Linked DNA regions of Homo sapiens: all the other regions are linked to region 1. Evidence: fine-mapped expression QTL. Tissue or cell type: whole blood. Region 1 holds a variant in brackets; each other region holds the start of a gene. All regions are shown on one strand. Distances are between the middles of the regions.

Region 1 (2,687 bases):
TGTATTTTTAGGAGAGACAGGTTTTCACCATGTTGGCCAGGATGGTCTCGATCTCTTGACCTTGTGATCTGCTTGCCTTGTCCTCCGAAAGTGCTGGGGTTACAGGCGTGAGCCACCGCCCCGGCACTTCTTTCTAACATAGTACTGGATGTCCTAACCAGCACAGTTAGGCAAAAGAAAGAAAGAAAAGGTATCCACATTGGAAAGAAAAAAGTAAAATTGTCTCTATTTAGTAATAACATCATCTTATATATAGAAAATCCTAAAGACTTAGCCAAAAAAGTATTGGAAAAGGTAAACAAGTCTAGTAATGTTGAAAGATACAACATCAACATACAAAGATCAGTTTCATTTCTATACACTAATGAAAAACTATCTGAAAAAGATTAAGAAAACAATTCCAATAGCAACAAAAAAGTACTTAGATATAAATTTAACCAGAGATGAAAGACCTGGTTAAAATTATGGAAAATTATAAAACACTGATTAAAGAAATTGAAGAAAACACAAGCAAATGGAAAACTATCCTGTGTTCATAATTGGAAGAATTAATATTGTTTTGATGTCCTTGACTAGCAGAGCTGCCGCTTGCCGTAGTGTGCTCTGCAGGAATTGTGGACGAACACAGCTGAAGCTTGCCACTGGCCACTCCATCCCCTCAACCAGTGACCCTGACCACTTGATTGGTGGAGCTGCTGCCTGCCACATGTGACTCCAGTGATCTAAGGACTTGTGGAGTCACATGTGACCAGACCACCAGTGAGCCGAAACTTTCAACTGTCAGAGGTGCTGTACACCACACATGTTCCCCAGGAATTGGGAATTAGCCTGCCCAGCATCTGCTCCCACCAGAAATACCACCCCCTGGAACAGTGGAGGCACCACACACTGCCTGCATCCCCCAGGGTTCCAAGGACTGGCGCACTCAGCACCTGCTGCCATGACTTCATATCCTTGATTGGCAGAGTGACTACATGCTGCACGCAGCCCCCCAGGAGTCTCAGGAACAGCCCATTTGGTGTCCACCACTGATGGTGGCCATATCTCATTTACTTGCAGAGCTGCTGCATGCTACGTGCATCGTCTAGGACTCCAGGTACTGGCCCACTCAGCACCTGGCACCTCTAGTAACCTTGCCTCCTCGACTGGTACACCCCTGGGACCAAGTGACCAGTGGAGCTGTCATGTTTGGTGTGCACTGCCCTTGCCTAAAAACCAGCCTAGCTGGTGGCCCCAGCTCCCTGCAAAGCTGTGCCATTGCCTCCAAAACTACACACAGCCTACAACATTGACACACTTGAAGGTACTTCCAATGTTGATTACAGCTGAAGCAGTTAC[A/G]TGGAAATTATTAATATAATACAGCACCCACGTATCCAACCAACACCATAGGACTCATCTACAGGAAAACATCTTTGCCTATAAAAGTTTCCACCTCAGGGAACTAGAAAAATAAAAAAAAGAAGCCCCAAGTTGAAAATGTTTGAAATAACAAAAATTAGAGCAGAAATAGAGAGTAGAAAAACAGAAGAAAACATCAACAAAACTAACAGGTGGTTTATATATAATGTTATTCCATAAAATTGGAAGAGGTTATTGTTCCACCAAATTTGCAGATATCAATGTAGGAACCCAAGAAACATGAAAATCCAAGGAAATATGACACCTCCAAAGGAACACAGTAATTCTTCAGTAACAGACTCCAAGGAAAATAAAATCTATGAATGCCTGAAAAGGAGTTCAAAATAATGATCTTAAGAACACTTAGTGAGACACAAGAGACTAGAAATGGAGAATTTAACAAAATCAGGAAAACAATTTTTCATCTAAATGAAATACTTTTTAAAAGCCCCTTTCCCCATTTAAAAAAAAAAAGAAATATTCAACAGAGAGACAGATACTACAAAACAGAGCTAAACAGGAATCTTGGAGCTAAGGAATTCAATGAATGAAATAAAAACATTGCCATTTGATGGATTACTATAGTGATAAAATTTGATTCCTTTCAAATTTATACAGGAGATAAATCAGAAGAAAGAATTTCTGAACTTGAAGACAGGTATTTTGAAATAACCCAGTCTGATGAAAAAAAGAAAGAGAAAAAAGAATGAAGAAAGTATACAGGACTTATGAAATACCATTAAGTGAAAAAATTTTCATATTATGTGAGTTTCAGAAGAAGAGATGAGAGATGGTGTAAATAACCTATTTAATAAAATAATAGCTGAAAACTTTGCAAGTCCTGGAAGAGATGTGGACATCCAGTTCCAGGAAGCTTAAAAGTTTCCAAAATATTCAACACAAAAAGGTCCTCTACATGGCACATTTTAGTCAAATTGTCAAAAGGACAAACAGAGAATTCTAAAATGAGCAAGATAAAAGTGTCATGCTACGTACAAGAGAATTCCCATCAGACTAACAACAGATTTCTTTCCTTCTTCCTTCCTTCCTTCCTTCCTTTCTTTCTTTTTTTTTTTTTTGATGGAGTCTTGCTCTGTCGCCAGGCTGGAATCCACTGGCACGATTTCGGCTCACTGCAGCCTCTGACTCCCTAGTTCAAGTGATTATCCTGCCTTAGCCTCTCGAGTAGCTGGGATTACAGGCACGCACCACCACACCCAGCTAATTTTTGTATTTTTAGTAGAGACGGGGTTTCGCCATGTTGGTCAGGATGGTAACAGCAGATTTCT
Region 2 (2,687 bases), 51 kb after region 1:
ACATGTCTACAGAGTTGGCAGTTAATGCTGAATTTGTCAAATAGCTCTTCCAAAATTATACTTGTATTTAAAAAATAAATGGATCTACCTAATTTCTATTCATCTAATTTGCAGTTTTGTCTTATTAAAGTGGTATGTTTTTCAATGTATTTTTTTCTGAAGTTGATCTCTTTACATTTCAGCTATTACTGTAGGCAGAAAGAAATTGACTTGTAATCTTTGATTTTTTTGCATTTGTAATGGCTTTGTACTTAAGGTAGGATTACATGTTTACAGATTGTGGGGGAAAAAAAAAGAAAAGTGAAGGGAGAGAAAAGACAAGGCGAGTGGCCAGAGACCCTCAGGATCCAAGAGTTAACTCTGATTAACTCAGATGCTTTGTTCAGCCAATTTCAGACTTCTTTTTTCCTAATACAAGCACTTAAGGATAAGCCTTTCTGTAAGAACTGCCTTACATGCATCATAGTATTTTAAATGTAGTGTTTTCATTCTTCTTCTAGTCTAATTACCTTCAACTTCTATTATTAGTTCTCTTAGACCCATTAGTTATTTAAAATTGTGTTATTAACAATTTCTAAGTTCATGGGGTTTCCTCTTTTTAAATTGCTCTTTACCTTCGTTGTCCTTCGTGGTGCTCTCCGTGGAAACCTGCTTTCTGATCTAGTAAGTGCTTATTCTTTGTGCATGTCCCTAGACTTGAAATCACTGCATAATCCCTAACTGTGTGTGTCCTGGCTTAGTGCATCTAATGAATGACTGAATGAATGCATCTTTGCCTTTGCCTTACCCCCGGGCCTGAAACATCGTCTTGGTCCCCTTCTCAATACCTTGGATCCTTGGAGATCAAGGTCCTGGTTGTTCTGGCAAGTTCAACACAATCTGGCCTCATGATCAGAGTCCTGTCCCTGAACTCAAGACAAGGGAGGGATGGGCAGAATTACCTCATGCTGTGCCAGGAAATATGAGTCTCATGGGGCATGGCCTGTGTGCCTGGGCAAATTCACTGCCTCACTACCCTGTGCTGAGATGATCTCTTTTTTTTTTTTTTTTTTTTTTTTTTTCTGAGATAGAGCCTCACTCTGTCACCAGACTGGAGTGTAGTAGTGCAATCTGGGCTCACTGCAACCTCCCTCTTCCCGGTTCAAGCAATTCTCCTGCCTCAGCCGCCCAAGTAGGTGGGACTACAGGTGCGCACCACCATGCCTGGCTGATTTTTGTATTTTCAGTAGAGACGGGGTTTCATCATGTTGGCCAGGATGATCTCGATCTCTTGACCTCGTGATTCACCTGCCTTGGCTTCCCAAAGTGCTGGGATTACAGGCATGAGCCACTGCGCCCGTCCAATCTCTCTTTCAGGGACAGATGTTCACTCTCTCTTGCAGCTCTGCCTGCCAGACTAAGCCTGAAAATATCTCTGCATCTGGCATTCCTTTACCACCTATGTGGGGCACAACCCAGAACAAAGTCCCTCCAAGTGTACCCTACTCTCTTTCCATTATCATTTCTCTGGTCTGAGATAGATGTTTATGACCTGCCAATAAATGCAGTGACTCAAACTCCAGTGCCCATACTCCTCATTCATACAGCCATGTTTAGGGAGGCTCTAGGGAGAAATGCACAGTTTGACATCGTTCATGAAGAGCCTCTCCACGGCTCCTGCGCCTGAGACAGCTGGCCTGACCTCCAAATCATCCATCCACCCCTGCTGTCATCTGTTTTCATAGTGTGAGATCAACCCACAGGAATATCCATGGCTTTTGTGCTCATTTTGGTTCTCAGTTTCTACGAGCTGGTGTCAGGTAAGCCTTTCAGTTTGGACTGTTGTTTTTCTCCTTGTTGAATAATATTTTGAGTTCATTCATGACAATGATCTCAGCACAGTGAGATGCAGGAATCTTTGGTGCTTGCATTCTCCAGCTTCTCCTGGCCTCAGGCTGGAAACTACCAATGCCAGGAGCTGTGGGAAGCACAGGGCAGCAGGAATTGAGGAAGACTCCTTGGGCTGTTTCTCAAGGACTTGGGCACTATCACAGTAGCTCAGAATAATGGGAGCAGGCCCTGGGAGCAGGGAGGGAACACATTGAGAACGCCAAGGTAAACACATTGTTCTCCCCAGGTGGGCTGTGGGGCTTAGGCAGGGGAAGTCTCTAATAAAATCCCCAGGTTTTTGACTTGGGTGCCTGGGTGGAAGGTGGCACTGTTTAGGATGTTTGGAGAAAAAGACAATGTGTCCAGTTATGCACATGCTGAGTTAGAAACACCTGTAGTTATGGGGTAGAGCACCAGACCTTTAAGTGAGGAGTAAGTTGGAACCTGGCATAGTCTAGGCAGAAACCCACTCTTCTTTCTCCTTCTAGTAACCATCAAGACAAAGCCTGGTGTATAGGATATTCAGTAATCAAATAAATTTTGCAGGGAGAGATAGGGGCTGGAGTAGAACACTGGATTCTGGGTGGTCAGTGTTAAGCCACAAAAAGTTCATTTGACTGTGTTCACTTTCTGTCTGGAACAGTTCCATCCTGCTATTTGTCTACCTATGACTGTTTTGCTAAACAAAGCCAACAAAACAGAAATAAGGGGATCAAAATCCATGTGTGCTCAGAGGGCGTGGTGGCTCACACCTGTAATCCCAGCACTTTGGGAGGCTGAGGTGGGTGGATCACCTGAGGTCAGGAGTTTGAGACTAG
Region 3 (2,687 bases), 38 kb before region 1:
ACAACATTCAACAACTCATTTCCTTTTTTTTTTTATCACAGAGTAATATTCCATTGTATAGATGTACCATAGTTTGTGTATACATTCTATGTATCATTATTGAATGATATCTGGTTGCAAACATTTTTGGCAATTATGAATAAAGCTGCTATAAACATTCATGTGCAATTTTTCATGTGGACATATGTTTTCAAGTCATTTAGGTGAATAAAAAGCAGTGCAGTTGCTGGATTAGGTGATAAAAGTATGTTTAATTTTGCAGGAAATTGCTGAACTGTCTTCTAGAACAACCGTACCGTCTTGCATTCCTGTCAGCAATCAGTGAGAATTCCTGTTGCTCCGCATCCTCACCAGCATTTGGTGTTGTCAGTGTTCTAGATTTTAGACTAAATGCAGTGTTTTCATTTTGTCCTATTCTAGATGCTAACTTTTATTGTGATTTAGTCTCGTGAGTTGTTTTAAATTGTTACATAAGAATTTCTTAGTGTATAGAGTTTCCTATGTTTTTGAATTACTTTTTAATTTTAATTGCATTATGATTAGAGTATGTTTATTTTGATGGTTATCTGTGGAAATTTTCATTCTGATCTAGTTAAGTGGTGACTTTGTGAGTTTCCGTGTGCTTAAAAAGACTGCAAATCTCTCATTGTGGCTGCCCTGGAACTTAGTTTATATAATAAATAAGTTTCCTCATGTCTGAACCTGCCCAGGCACCTTTCCCAATGTATCAGATGTTTAACACTAAGGATCTGTTTTGTTCTGGAAAGTTATTTTTATCTGGCCTCATGATTACAGTCCTGGCCCTGAACTTCAGAGAATGGAGGGGTAAGCAAAAGGACCTCAGACTGTGCCAGGAAATGTCAAGTCACCTGCTGTAGGCTACTACTAATGGAGCATGGCCTATTTACTTGGACACCAAACTATCCAGTGCTAACATGAGGTTTTTCAGGACTAGATCCCATGGCCATACAGCCCTGCCTGCCAGATTGGACGTGAAAAGTATTTCCGCATCTGACATTCCTGTTTCACCCACACAGGGCATCGTTTTGCCCAGGACAAAGTTCACCTCCAATCTTATCCACACTATTTCTATCTTTGCTTCCTTGATAAGATATAGACATTTATGCAGTGGTTCAAAGTCTAGAGTCCCTACACTTCTGGTACATGACAGCTGTGTCTCGATGGAGTAGACTCTCAGAACAGCGCAGTTTGCCCTCCGCTCACGCAGAGCCTCTCCGTGGCTTCCGCACCTTGAGCATTAGGCCAGTTCTCCTCTTCTCTCTAATCCATCCGTCACCTCTCCTGTCATCCGTTTCCATGCCGTGAGGTCCATTCACAGAACACATCCATGGCTCTCATGCTCAGTTTGGTTCTGAGTCTCCTCAAGCTGGGATCAGGTAAGACTCATCTTTGTTTCCTCCTTACTAACTAACAGTTTGAGTTCTTTAGCTACAATGGTTGCAGCATAATGGAATGAAGGCATCTTTGTCGTTTCCATTCCTTTGGCTTCTCCTAGCCTCAGCCTGGGGAAGGATCAGGCGCTGTGGAAACAATTATAGTAGCCCCCAAATAATGGAAACACGGGTGTTGAAGACGCACCGTGATCGTTGACGGGGACACACCTAACGTGTTAAGGTGAATAAATTCAGTGTTTCTCCCAGATGGGCTGAGTGGTGTAGGCAGGGTTATTGGAGCACCAAGGTTGCTGACATGGATGTCCATCTGGGAAGAGACACAGTTAGGATTTTTGGGGAAAAGACAATGTATCCAGCTAAAGACATGCTGAGTTAGAAATGTCTGTGGTATGAGACACGAGGGTGGAGGAAGGTGTACAGGTCTTGAGGTGAGAAATTAGCTGAAACCTGGCATATTCTGGGAAGAAATCCACTCTTCTTTCTCCTTCCAGTTACTGTTAACACAGAACCTAGTATATAGGATGTTGAGTGACTGAATACAATTCACAGAGGAAGCTTGAGGTTGGGGTAGAATGCTGGTGGCTAGATGGTCAGTACCCAGCCACAGAAGATTCGATTGACTGTGTTCACTTTCTGTCTGTGAAGGTTCATCCTGCCACCTGTCCACCTATATCTTTTTTGCTAAATGAAGCTAAGAAAACAGAAATAAGGGCAATCAAAACATAGAGCATGTTTCCTTAAAACAAAAACCCATATGTGTTACTAACAGGAGACGCTCTCGTTTCAGTTTGTTTTCATTTATTTTCTGACGAGCTTCTTTGTTTCCCTTCTGTTTCCGGGTGAGGCAGCAGGACATCCTGGAAATGATCTTGGAGACAGAAACATTTTATTTTTAAAAACTCTTATTTCATTTTCTTGTGAGCTTTATTGTTCACAGCTTCCTTAGGTGTTGGTTTGCTTATGATGACATGGAGATACGATCACATTCCTGCTGGGGCTGTGGTGAGGACTGCATGAGCTTGTGCATGTAGAGTGCACACAGCTGCACGGGTGCATGGCATGTTGCAGCAACAGTCTTGTTCCTTTCTTATTTTCAAGGGAAGGAAGTGGAAGGAGTGAAAGGAGATGTTATAGGCAAGAGAGGTGACAGCAGCAAGGGCTGGCCGGAGAAATGGAGGTACCCTGAAAAATGTTTCCTTGCCTCAAGAGCCCCACACAGCCCTGAAGGCAGCATCCATAGCAGCCCAGCTGGCATACGCTGGGTCCCCAAAC

What was found. PIP is the estimated chance that this variant, and not a neighbour inherited with it, causes the effect.
Region 2: BTNL3 starts here. The variant in region 1 is fine-mapped to the expression of BTNL3 in whole blood (INTERVAL, PIP above 0.99).
Region 3: BTNL8 starts here. The variant in region 1 is fine-mapped to the expression of BTNL8 in whole blood (INTERVAL, PIP above 0.99).

The regions. Positions count from the first base shown.
Region 1 is chr5:180,936,082-180,938,768 of GRCh38, forward strand. All of the region lies in intron 3 of BTNL8 (butyrophilin like 8), which reads left to right. Among named protein-coding and RNA genes, the nearest start is that of BTNL8, 38 kb to the left of the region's middle. The variant A/G (reference allele first, on the strand shown) is at 1,339.
Region 2 is chr5:180,987,279-180,989,965 of GRCh38, forward strand. BTNL3 (butyrophilin like 3) reads left to right here and starts at 1,568. Exons shown (of 8, transcript NM_197975.3): 1 at 1,568-1,799. The coding sequence starts at 1,751. It also overlaps the pseudogene ARPP19P1.
Region 3 is chr5:180,897,963-180,900,649 of GRCh38, forward strand. It overlaps BTNL8 (butyrophilin like 8), which reads left to right and starts at 1,197. Exons shown (of 8, transcript NM_001040462.3): 1 at 1,197-1,397. The coding sequence starts at 1,349.